Regions from separate parts of the Homo sapiens genome. Here region 2 is linked to region 1. Evidence: fine-mapped expression QTL. Tissue or cell type: subcutaneous fat. Region 1 holds a variant in brackets; the other region holds the start of a gene. All regions are shown on one strand. Distances are between the middles of the regions.

Region 1 (7,636 bases):
TTGTCCCTGCCTTACGCTGCTTCGCCATACAGTGGAATTCGTTGCTCTATGGCCTCTGCCATTTTGCTGCTATGCTCCAAGGAATTATAGCAATTGGACATTTGAGAATAATGTGGTATAGGAGCCTAGATTTGATGCCCAGAATAGCACCTGGCACAGAAGAGGCAGTCCATAAATATTTGTTGAATGTATGAAAAGTAGATTATTCTTATTTAGTCTGGTGGCCATGTCTGCAAATCGAAAGACGTACCCTCAGCCCTGGGAACTCTCGCTTTTGCCACATTTCCCTGTGCTTTTGAATCCCCCTTCCTGTTCCCCGTCTTAGAGATAGTCTTAAGCTCTATTGCTTACTGGATTCCAAAGGACCTGTGTGTCAGCAGGCGTCACTGCAAAACAGCATGCATTTCTAAAGTTACCCTTTACACTTCCAAATCGCAGGCTGGAAAAACAATTGGCAAGCCTTACAGGACACGTGGACTCGCCCAGTTGCTTCTTCAAATCTTTCCCTCGCTGCCATTGCTTGAGTAAACAAACAGTCTTTCGTTGGCTCTGGAACACTCCAGAGCCTGGAGTCTATTTTAAAGCAATCTTTAAACAGTTACAGCAATTTTCCAGTCCTAAAAAATATACTTTGTAAAGAGCTAAAGCATTTCACCATAAAAAAAAAAAAAAAATTCCACTTACCTCTTAAACGCTCCATCACTCTAGACCACTGCTTACTGGTCATGCCAATAGAGTTAATTAAACCATGCTTAATTAACATGGTTAGATCATGACCAGAGTGTCTGCCTAAGTCGCCCCCTCTTTGAACGAGCTCCTTGGGAGCAGCTTGACTGCAGGTGAATGCTGGGAAGCAGACCAAAGGTCATCCCCATGGCATTAGGAATCGGATTTCAGAAACAACTGCCAGGCTGACCAAATATGGAGGATGAACACATGCTCTGTGCTAGAGCCAGCCGGCTGCCCATCTTCCCTGTCAAGGGAAGGCAAATGCTCACACCAGTTCTGCTAGACCATCCCAAATGTTTCTTCCCCTCCAAGGGGGTACAAAAGATTGACGAATACAGGTTGCAGAGGACACCTCAGCCTAACCTAGCAGGCACTCTGTCAGGCCAACAAGCGAAAGGCTGCCAGCGTGGGATTTCAGCTTTCCGCAAACGGAATGTTTTCTGATGTGATACAGCACGATAGAGCAGAAGAAATGAATAAGCTTCGAAGCCCGAGAGAGCTGGGTTTGAGTCCTCACTCTTCCTTTAAAAGATGGAAAATAACAGAATAGAGTTTGACGTGTGTTTTGATGATTATGCCTCATGAATAGTAAGGGCTGGGTCTAGGTTCTGGGTAGACACTGATGACTAAAACAGGCATGGTGTAAAATGTTAACTTTAGGAGAAGCCGGGGAAGCATCTATATGGGAGCTCTCCATACAATCTTTGCAACTTTTCTATAAATCTGAAAATACTCTAAAGTAAAATTTGGCCAGGCACAGTGGCTCATGCCTGTAATCCCAGCACTTTGGGAGGCCGAGGCGGGCAGATCACTTGCGGTCAGGAGTTCGAACCCAGGCTGGCCAACATGGCGAAACCTCATCTCTACTAAAAGTACAAAAATTAGCCAGGTGTGGTGGTGGGCACCTGTAGTCCCAGCTACTCAGGAGGCTGAAACACAAGAATCACTTGAACCTGGGAGGTGGAGGTTGCAGTAAGCCAAGATTGTGCACTGCACTTCAGTCTGGCAACAGAGTGAGACTCTGTAAGAAAGAAAGAAAGGAAGAAAGGAAGAAAGAAAGAGAGAGAGAGAGACAGAGAGACAGAGAGAGAGAGAAAGAAAGAAAAGAAAGAAAAAGAAAGAGAAAAAGAAAGAAAGAAAAAGAAAGAGAAAAAGAAAGAAAGAAAGAGAAAGAAAGAAAGAAAGAAATCTAATTATAAAAAGAGACACATGGTTCCTACTACCCTCATGGAATTTTGAATTTAGTGAATGAATGAGTGATATTTAGTAAATCATATCTGCCTTCCCTTCCTCAGAAGCATTTGGGTCACAAGCGGTGGCCATTACCCTAAAAGGATTCAGGAACCTCAAAGATGTAAGAGGTGACATGTTCTGATGTCTGTAGTTTGTAGGTGGCAGACTAAAGGCTTCAAAAACATACCCAATGTTGATGACCTGTATGTATTTAATATTTTAGAAACAATATGATTTAAAGAGAATTGGATGAGGTCAGAAAATCCAAATCCATGTGCCCTTGGTCAGATCAGTTCCTCTCTCCAAGCCTCTCTCTCTCCGTCAATAAACTGGGGACCACAATCTCTGCCCTTCCCTACCTCAGTGGGTGATAGGAATGCCTTGTAAACAACAACTGTACAAATAAAAGGGAGAGTCTCTTTATTCAAAGAGCTGGGCATGTCAGGATGGCCTGTACCATGCTGTGATGTTTACTTGATTATACTTAAAGTGCAGACATAAACTTTATTTCTTTTGCCCCTCTAGAATCCCTGTATCCACTCATTTTCATGCTACAGCAGCATGGTTTAAGAATGAGCAGGCAGGAAGCTGAGTACAATTGTTCTGAAACCCAAGCTTTACTGCTTATTTAGCTGTAAGTCTCTGGGTTCTACACCTCGAGTACCGTATCTGTAGAATGGGGGTCATAACTGCAGGGTTGTTCTGAAGGTTAAATAAAGGACAAGGCTAGACCACGTAGACATTGTACATGCTGGTTGTTACTGTATAAAGAAGAAACAGATTCAAAACTCATTAATGAAGAGCCCCATTGGCTATCTCAGCTTAGAGCAAAAGCAGTTAATCAGAAGTTCAGGCTGGGTGCAGTGGCTCAAGCATGTAATTCCAGAACTTTGGGAGGCTGAGGCGGGTGGATCACTTGAGGTCAGGAGTTCGAGACCAGCCTGGCCAACATGGTGAAACCCCATCTCTACTAAAAATAGAAAAATTAGCTGGGCATGGTGGCAGGGACCTGTAATCCCAGCTACTTGGGAGGCTGAGGCAGGAGAATCGCTTGACCCCGGGAGGCAGAGGTTGCAGTGAGCTGAGACTGTGCCACTGAACTCCAGCCTGGGCGACAGAGTGAGACTCTCTCTCAAAAAGAAGAAGAAAAGGCCATGTGCAGTGGCTTACGCCTGTAATCCCAGCACTTTGGAAGGCTGAGATGGGCAGATCACGAGGTCAGGAGATTGAGACCATCCTGGCTAACACGGTGAAACCCCGTCTCTACTAAAAATACAAAAAGTTAGCCGGGCGTGGTCGCGGGCGCCTGTGGTCCCAGCTACTCGGGAGGCTGAGGCAGAAGAATGGCGTGAACCTGGGAGGTGGAGCTTGCAGTGAGCCGAGATCGCGCCACTGCACTCCAGCCTGGGTGACAGAGCGAGACTCCGTCTCAAAAAAGAAAAGAAAAAAGAAAAGAACAGCTCCTCCCAAAGTTAACATTTTACACA[T/G]TTATTCAGAAGATGCATCTGGCCAAAACCTGGAGCCGTGTTGTTCACACACTTGCGTAATCGTGCCAGTGAAAACTAGCACCGACCCTCCGGGCTGGGGGAACCCCACAGCAGGGGCTGTGGGAGCAGACAGGTGACAGTAAAGAAACTCTCTGCTGTCAAGGCCGGGTGCTGTGGCTACACCTGTAATCCTAGCACTTTGGGAGGCCAAGGTGGGTGGGTTACCTGAACTCAGGAGTTCGAGCCTGGCCTGGGCAACACGGTGAAACCCTGTCTCCACTAAAATACAAAAAAGTAGCCAGGCATGGCGGTGTGCACCTGTAATCCCAGCTACTCAGGAGGCTGAAACAGGAGAACTGCTTGAACCCAGGAGGCGGAGATTGTAGTGAGCCGAGATCGCGCCATTGCATTCCAGCCTGGGTGACAAAGCAGGACTCTGTCTCGTTACGAGAAAAAAAAAAAAAAAGAAAGGAAACTCTGTGCTGTCATGAAGATTGAATTAATTCTTGCTGCTTAACTTGTTCTTTGCTCAACTTCTTTCACATTAAACACATTAAAGCAGCCCAGATGCCCACCTGCAGCCTGTGGAATATTGGGAAATGCTCCCTGTCCTGCACTGGCTGAGTGTTGCTGTAATGCTGAGTTCCTCAAGAGCTAAAGAAGGGACCTTCAAGTTAACCGTAGAGCACCAAGCATAGCTTTAAACAAGATGTGCACATATATATGGCACTTTCCTCTGTCAAGCAAAGTAACAACCACACAGCGCCTGAGCAACATACAACCTCAGCCTTTCTTGATGACCAGACCCTGGGGACGGCTCGCATACACAGATTCTCCTGTCCTCCTGGTCCTCTGTTCCTCAGATGTCCACATTGCTGAGGTCTCCTGCAGCAGCAAACCTCATTCAGACCACATCTTGTACGCAGAGCAGGGACCCGACCCGGGGGGACCTGCCCAAGCTGGGGGAGGCGTGTCTGCTGAGCTGGCTCTGGGTCCTTCTGATGTCACCTACTTCCTGCTCATTTGCAGCTCTGAGCTCAAACATCAGCTCCCCAGAAGCGCCTTCCTTGACACCCAGGCTAGGTCTGGGGTCTGTGCACCTGTCTTCTTGCTTCATAGCATTGATCACAGTTTCTAGAGTTGAAAATTATGTTTTTTGGGACTTGTTACAGAAACACCCAGACAATAGAAGTGTTAGAATGGAGTTACTGAATGATGATATGTTTTAAGTGAGATCATTATAATAATAGGATTGAATGTCTTTTCTTCCTCCCCACACGGTCAGAGCTATAAATGGGAATCATGACAGCCCCATGGCCAAGCGGAACTCCAGAGAGTGGTAATGGAGGGGTTAGGGTTGCCCTTCCCTTCTGAAATCCACATGCTTGGAGCTTGGAGCTCAGATGTCCCCTGTAGGGCTCTCCAGAACTGAACAACTGTGAAGCCCACCTTCAGGATTTGGGGCTGTGGGCTGGCATGGCCCTTATTTCACCACAGAGCTTTCTAAACAAGTCAGGATGCATGAAACCCCTGGAAGGGCTGTCGAGTGGAGACAGCTCTCATCACAGCGTCACCACCACCTCTTTCCCAGAGAGGGACACACATAAGCCAGGACCCTGACACTCCCGGGAACAGGTGATGCCCCCCTTGGCTGGGTGTTAGACAGTCTCCCAACTTCCCATTGGACCGTGTCCTCCCACTCCCCAAACGAGTCACCCTTTAGAGCCGTGGTTATACATTTCTCTTCATTTCCAACCATCAGGTGGTGCAATACATCACCTGTGCAAGTGTACTTTAGTAACCGAGGCTGCTTAGAGCCCCCTGAGAACAGCCTCCCAGGAGGCCTAAGTGAGTCCATTCCCAAAGGAAGGAGCAAGGGTAACAACTAGGACTCAGCTTGCTGCAAAAGGCACCCACAAGGGGCTGGGCTGAGGCTCCATGGCCCCAGCTCAGTAAGAGGAACCTCCAATTAGCAGATAGAAGAGGTTTCAGGCTGAGTGTGGGAATTTTCCTCTGTCGATGGCTTCTCTTCCCTCAGGAACAGAGAACAGAACCCAAAGCTACCACTAAAATTCAGAGTTTCAATAGCATTTGTGCTGACAAAACAAGAAATCACTGTGACTGGTTGGCAGGATAGGAAGGTAAGACTGTTGTGATGTTATTAAAATTGACTACTTGAATAAGATAAATCAGTTTGTAATTAATGCAGCAATTAATTGTTTTCAAAAAGTGTCAAAAGCAAATACTGTCGAAATAAACTGCCGGCTCACTGCCTAGAGGCTCCGAGGAGAGGTCCTGTTGTGCTTACCTCCCTGCCTCCCTCATCTGCCTGAAGGCCCAGTCCTCCCAGGCACTTGTTGTCCCCCAACCCCACATCTCAGGCCGCCCCAGACCCTGCTGCCTCATCTGACCTTGTCTCCACCCCCACCTTCCAATTCCCACGCCTTTTTCTGCACTCAGATCAGCAGCCTGAACCCTCATATCCCAGGATCATCACGGAACAGACCCTTAACCTTCCCACCTTACCCATGCCAGCTGCCCTCTGAGAACCTACCAGGTTCCAACCCTCTCAAGGGGAGGCTGATTTTCCTTCCACAAGCCCAGAAGATCATGGTTTCAAAATAGAGTCAGGAGGCCAGCACGGTGGCTCACACCTGTAATCCCAGTACTTTGGGAGGCCAAGGTGAACAGATCACCTCAGGTCAGGAGTTCGAGACCAGGATGGCCAACATGGTGAAACCCCATCTCTACTAAAAATACAAAACTTAGCCAGGCATGGTGGCACCTGCCTGTAATCCCAGCTACTCCGGAGGCTGAGGCAGGGGAATCATTTGAACCCAGGAGGCAGAGGTTACAGTGAGCCAAGATTGTGCCACTGCACTCCAGCCTGGCTGACAGAGTGAGACTCCGTCTCAAAACAAAACAGAAAAAAAGCAAAAAACACATGAGTCAGGAACCTTGTGTCCCCCGCCAATGTTCTTTCTAAGCCATTTCACTTCCCCCACCTGCAAAACTCAATGTCCCTTTAATGCAATGATGCTGTAACTGAGTATCCCATTTTTCTAAGAGAAAGAAAATGGTTTTAATTATTTTTTTTCTTTTCTCTCTCCTTCTTTTCTCATGTTCCTCACTTCCTACTTAGCGCTTTAGAAATGCAATTATAACCTTATAACCTTGACCTTCCCTTCACCAGACACTCCCTATAGGACAAGCTTATCTGACTCTGTGCTCACTTAGAAGCTCCAGAGCCAGAAAGCTCTCCCAGCAGGAGATTGCCTCAAGAAACAACTGTCAATTTCCAACCTCAAGTACGCCCACGACGGAAGTCTTTCCCACCTGGAGAGCGTCTCAAGACAACGACCACCTTAGAACCTAGTTTTGTGCCAGCTGGACCACCTGGTGGATAAGGCACTGAAGTGAGTCCAGTGGTCCCCCACCTACTCACTCCCTCCCCACCTGCTGTGCATGCAAAGTCCCCCCTTTAAAAGTCCCTGCTTTCTGCCCCAAAAGCAAAGCAGTGCCCTTAAAAGCAGAAGCCTGTACTTTTCCCCCTAAGCTAAGCTTTAGAATAAAAAGTCACTTTTTTCATGTCAGCCCTCACTCGTTTTTTGGTTTGTGTGTTTGTTTATTTGTTTTTTGAGACAAGGTCTCACTCTTGTCACCCAGGCTGGAGTGCAGTGGCGCCATCTTGGCTCACTGCAACCTCTGCCCCCTCTCCCCCAAGGGCTTAAGTGATCCTTCCACCTCAGCCTCCCAAATAGCTGGGACCACAGGTGCACACCACCACACCCTGCTAATTTTTTGTATTTTTAGTAGAGACAGGGGTCTCGCCATGTTGCACTGGCTAGTCTCAAACTCCTGTAGCTCTTGTTAATTGGACTGTACAAGTGGTGAGTGACTGAAGCTTTGGTTTGGTTACAGTGCTACTGAGTGCACTCCTTTTATTCTCTGAGGTATCTCCTACAAAAACAAACAAACAAACAAACAAACAAACAAAAACCAACAAAAAGCCTCACCTGGGAGCCTCTGGCCTCCCAGGCTTCTTGCTCTCTATTATCCCAGGACCTCAGCCCCATCCAGAATAATGAGCCAAACACTGCTAAGGGGCTCTGCCCCTTGATCATTGTGTACAAGAGAAAGACTCAGGCGCCGTGACTGTTGAGGTGCAAAGAATAACCCAATACCCT
Region 2 (5,664 bases), 66 kb after region 1:
GGCCCGCAGCTGTGGTGGGTTCGCGGGGTCCCCCAACAGTGCCAGCCCACCAGCGCTGTGCTCCATTTCTCGGCGGGCCTTAGCTGCCTCCCCGCAGGGCAGGACTCAGGACCTGCAACCCGCCATGCCTGAGCCTCCCCCTGCCACCGTGGGCTCCAGCGTGGCCCGAGCCTCCCCGATGAGCGCCGCCCCCTGCTCCAGGGTGCCCGATCCCATCAACTGCCCAAAGGCTGAGAAGTGGGGTGCAGGGCGAGGGACTGGCAGGCAGCTCCACCAGCCACCCTGGTGCGGGATCCACTGGGTGAAGCCAGCTGGGCTCCTGAGTCTAGCGGGGACTTGGAGAACCTTTATGTCTAGCTAAGAGATTGTGAATACACCAATCAGCACTCTGTATCTAGCTCAAGCTTTGTAAATGCACCAATCAGCACTCTGTGTCTAGCTCAAGGTTTGTAAATGCACCAATCTGCGCTCTGTGTCTAGCTGATTTGGTGGGGACTTGGCGAACGTTTATGTCTAGCTAAGGGATTGTAAATACACCAATCGGCACTCTGTATCTAGCTCAAGGTTTGTAAATGCACCAATCAGCACTCTGTGTCTAGCTCAGGGTTTGTAAATACACCAATCAGCACTCTGTATCTAGCTAATCTAGTGGACAGGTGGAGAACTTTTGTGTCTAGCTCAGGGATTGTAAACGCACCAATCAGCACCCTGTCAAAATGGACCAATCAGCTCTCTGTAAAACAGACCCATCGGCTCTCTGTAAAATTGACCAATCAGCAGGATGTGGGTGGGGCCAGATAAGAGAATAAAAGCAGGCTGCCCTAGCCAGTAGTAGTAACCCACTCAGCTCACTTTGCACACTGTGGAAGCTTTATTTTTTCGCTCTTTGCAATAAATCTTGCTGCTGTTCACGCTTTGGGTCTGCACTGCTTTTATGAGTTGTAACACTCACTGTGAAGGTCTGCAGCTTCATTTCTGAGGCCAGCAATACCACAAACCCACCGGGAGGAACGAACAACTCCAGACACGCCGCATTAAGAGCTGTAACACTCACCGTGAAGGTCTGCAGCTTCACTCCTGAGCGAGTGAGACCACGAACCCACCAGAAAGAAGAAACTGCGAACACATCTGAACATCATAAGGAAAAAACTCCGGACACATCACCTTTAAGAACTGTAACACTCACTGCGAGGGTCCGCGGCTTCATTCCTGAAGTCAGTGAGACCAAGAACCCACCAATTCTGGACACACTTTCACCTGGAAGAACGCTAAGTATTCCATTACAGAACACTGAGCTACAAGCAACAACTATGAAACAATGACCTGGTTTAAACCATGATTTATGGCTTACTTTACAGGGAGTCTGGAGGCATGTGGTTGATTCAGCAATTCAGCCATGTCCATCTTTGCTCTCCAGTGTCTCCAGCACTCTAGTCTTTCCTCATGCTTGTCACCTCGTGAGTACCAGATGCTGCCAATATGGCAGGCTCCACATTTTTTCTTTCAGACGTTGTTTCATTCTTGTCACCCAGGCTGGAGTGCAATGGCGCGATCTCTGCTCACTGCAACCTCCACCTCCCAGCTTCAAGCAGTTCTCTTGCCTCAGCCTCCCGATTAGCTGGGATTACAGACACGCACCATTATGCCCGCTAATTGGCAGGTTCCCCATTTCTTATGCCAGCCATCTCAAAGGGGGTAGGGGGTCAAGGGTTTTCTTTTCAGGAAGGTTTGTATTCCATCCAGTTGGGAAACCCTTTCACATCTCACGGACCCAGGTTGCATCACATGACCCTTGACCAGTCACTGGGGAAGGGGAATGACATTACCGTGACCTGGTTAGAGTGATCACGTTTCATCTAAGGAAGTAGGCACACACGTCCCCTTCAGGAAATACAGATAAGCAGGGATGGGTGAGGTAGTAGCTGTTGGACAGCAATGAACAGTGCCTAACTTAAGTTTAGTAGACATGATGCACAAAATGGAATATTTGTAGGTTGTGTAATAACCCAACTTATAATATTGGTCTTTTGAGAAAATGTGTTCTTAGCACCAAAGACAACTTTTGGGAAACAATACTCGAATACAATCCAAAATGCACGGAGTGAAATTCATACATTTATCTTTCAAAGTATACTTAACATAATTCCATCTTTCTTGGGCCCTTCAGGAGGTATTCTTAGAATCTTCTAGTTTGAGAATCAGAATCAGGCTGTGCCTGGTGGCCCATGCTTGTAATCCCAGTACTTAGGGAGGCCGAGGTGGGCGGATCACTTGAGGTCAGGAGATGGGGTTGCAGTGAGCCAAGATAGTGCCACTGTACTCCAGCCTCGGCAGAGCAAGGTCTTAAAAAAAAAAAAAAAATCAAATGTGAACATAGACTGTCATTAAAATCAACCCAACAATCCCATAGACTGTTTACTATTTTTTTAATAAACTTAGAAATTATCATTTCTAGTCTTAAGGTTGAAACTTACCTTTGTTTTATCTGAGTTCCTTCCTCAGGAAAGGACCTCCAGAGCCTCTCAAAAAGTATCAAAAAACTGAAACTCGCCATATCACCGCATTCCAGACAATGAGATGCCAAGCCCCTCATGCATCCCCATAGCTTCCTTCCCCCTCCCGAGTTCCTCTTTTCCCATACATTGTTACATTGCTTCCCTGCAACTGTATAAACCCTTAATTTTAGTTGGTCAGGGCAATGGATTTGAGACTGAGCTTCCAACTCCCTGAGTGCAGCACCCTACTAAAGCCTTCTTCCTTGGTAATAATGGTTTTCTCAGTGATTTCTGTGAGGGGGCAGCGGGTCCTAGAACAAAACCCTGGTGCTCTGGTGACATTCTGTTGTAGATATTTAGAAGGATGTTTACCTGTTAATTTGTTCTGCTATCCTCACAAAAAATGGTATTGCCAGCTGCACATAAATATTTGATTCATCCACCCACCCCTGTTCCCCACCCCCCCGACCCCAGCCATGATGGCACAGGGAAACTGAGGTCGCAGGTGAGCAGCAGACCGCGTCTGGACTCCACATCCCGCGCTCATCCTGCTCCACAGCAGGAAGCTCGTTCAACACACATGGACTGCGTGCCCATGTGGGTGCCAGGCTGCGGCTGTGTCCTGGGCAGGCAAAGGGACCTAGGGAAGATGCAGGTCCAGGAGGGTGGGAAAGTAGGGGCAGAAAACCAAGATTCTCACAGCCCTGCAGTGTGGAGTAAGAGCTCATTACACCTCTTGTCAAGGGAACAAAGGATCCCCGCCAGGCCCCTCTTGTGCACCCAGCGGTCCCCCCAGGCGCCTTGGAGACCCGGCCGGGCCCGTCGCCGGCCTCCAGCCACAGGCGTCGCTGTGCGCTCGCGCGGGCCCGGGAGCCGCGTTCCGCCGGGAGCAGGCGCTGGCGCAGAGCAGGGGTTTCAGTTTCTGGCGCGAACTTCCGCCGTTCCGAAGTTGCACGGTGAATTGGCGCTATGTCTGGGGACAGCAGCGGCCGCGGGCCAGAGGGCCGGGGCCGGGGCCGCGACCCGCATCGGGATCGCACCCGCTCCCGCTCCCGCTCGCGGTCCCCTTTGTCGCCCAGGTCCCGCCGCGGCTCTGCGCGGGAGCGCAGAGAGGCCCCAGAGCGCCCGAGCCTGGAGGACACAGAGCCGTCGGATTCCGGGGACGAGATGATGGACCCGGCCAGCTTGGAGGCGGAGGCCGACCAAGGCCTGTGCCGCCAGATCCGCCATCAGTACCGGGCGCTCATCAACTCCGTCCAACGTAAGGCGGCGCCTCCGGGCGGCGCGGGCCCGGACGGGCCGCTGTCCCCGCCCTGCGCCGGGCGCGGGGGGAGGGCACCGGAGGCAGGTGCCGGGCGGAGGCCCGGCGCGGCGTTAGTAGAGACGCGCCGGGTGCCAGCCCCTCGCCGCACCTTAAATTGTTGACAAAGTGCTCCCACTTTGTGGCTGGAGCCGTACGACCTTGGCGCGGGTCCCCGAGTGGCGGGCTGGAAAAGCTGGAGGCCAGAGCCGTTCGCGGACTCGCCCGAGCCCAGCCAGCCAGTGGGGAGAGGCAGGACGCGGACTCCGCGTGCTTTGATTGCGCCCGGCAGTCCTCGGCGTGGGCTCCCGGCCTCGCAGCGGCAGCTGCAGCTGCAGCGGCACGCGAGAGCTGTCAAATGCACGTTCTCGGACCCCACCCGGACCCGCGGAATTCGAATCTCTGGGTGGGTCCGCGCAACTGTGGAGTGGCCCTCCAGGTGATGGTGTGTATTGCTTGCAAAGTTTGAGAACCACTCAGTTATGGAGCACTCAGAGGCTGCAGCCGGAGTCCAGCCCTTTGGGTTAAGGTTAGAGGGAGCTAGGGTTTCCTTTTAAAATTCATGCTGCATAAAGGGTAGGGTGGCCTTTCTCCTTTTCCGGGTCATTTTGGTTAAAAAGATAAAGATGTTCGAAGTAATTACTCAGAGCGCAGGGGCCGGGGCTTGGCTTTACTGTTGCAGGTGATAACCTTGTCAACTGCTTATTAGTGAATGCTGAACAAATTTCCCAAAGTTTGTATTTTTAAAAATAGAAAACCGTGAGGACATACTGAATGCCGGTGACAAATTAACAGAGGTCCTTGAAGAGGCTAACACTCTGTTTAATGAAGGTAATTTGTTATTTTATATGTTATTTCGTGTTTTATGATACTTTTAATTAGTGTTACATAAGCGCCAAATTATTGACATAAAACAATTCCCACATTTGTAATAGTGCTTTCCCAGTTCGGGAACCGTTTCATTATAGCAATAATGCCATTTTTATTATGCACTTACCATATAATAAGGGCTTTACATGAAAATTTGGGGGTAGGTTCCGCAGTCTGTGTTAAGCCCCCAGTTGATTCTGTTGCCTCTTCAAGTTTGAGAACGTTACATGTGTTATCTTGTTTCTTTTTCTTGTGTTTACTGCCGTATCCCTAGTATACATTGGTTGAGTGGATGAATTACAGAACTGAGCTAGCCTCTGAAATCCTGTTTCTTTTCCTGTCCCATTCTGTTTTGCCTTCCTCAGCTCCCTGCTATTGGTCCACGTGTAACACAATGGAGGTGGCAAAGCCTGCAAGTGTACCTGCTGGTCTCCAGTCTGGGGTGTGTTGTGTGTGAGTGAGTGAGTGAGAGAGATCCCAGAGCACTGAACTCTAGGCCATGGGTGCTTTAAAAAATAACCTTAGTTTGAATTGAAAGCAGAGGCAGTGGTATTGGTAGCAGCTGTCTGTCTGCTTGGTGACAGAGGGGTACTCCCTGATGTGGGTACTTGGTCATAGAGCCACAGGACTACTACCCAGACCACTGTCCCCTCCAGCCCTCTCTGACGGGTCTGTGGGAACATAGGGGAGAATGCAGCCAAATATATCCTTTTTTTTTTTTTTTTTGAGGTTTGAGATGGAGTCTCTGTTGCCCAGGCTGGAGTGCAGTAGCACAATCTCGGCTCACTGCAACCTCCACCTCCCAGGTTCAAGCAATTCTCCTACCTCAGCGTCCCGAGTAGCTGGGATTACAGGTGTGCTCCATCACACCCAGCTAATTTTTGTATTTTTAGTAGAGACGGGTTTCGCCATGTTGGCCAGGCTGGTCTCGAACTCCTGACCTCAGGTAATCCACCTGCCTCCGCCTCCCACAGTGCTGGGATTACAGGCATGAGCCAC

Evidence for each region. PIP is the estimated chance that this variant, and not a neighbour inherited with it, causes the effect.
Region 2: it holds the start of NSMCE4A, and the variant in region 1 is fine-mapped to the expression of NSMCE4A in subcutaneous fat (GTEx, PIP 0.97).

The regions. Positions count from the first base shown.
Region 1 is chr10:122,037,721-122,045,356 of GRCh38, reverse strand. All of the region lies in intron 2 of TACC2 (transforming acidic coiled-coil containing protein 2), which reads right to left. Among named protein-coding and RNA genes, the nearest start is that of TACC2, 52 kb to the right of the region's middle. The variant T/G (reference allele first, on the strand shown) is at 3,450.
Region 2 is chr10:121,972,966-121,978,629 of GRCh38, reverse strand. It overlaps NSMCE4A (NSE4A component of SMC5/6 complex), which reads left to right and starts at 3,413. Exons shown (of 11, transcript NM_017615.3): 1 at 3,413-3,756; 2 at 4,549-4,626. The coding sequence starts at 3,465. LOC124902517 (a long non-coding RNA gene) reads right to left here and starts at 3,763. Exons shown (of 2, transcript XR_007062322.1): 1 at 2,475-3,763; 2 at 853-2,342. RefSeq lists an enhancer at 2,979-3,774 and a silencer at 3,212-4,011.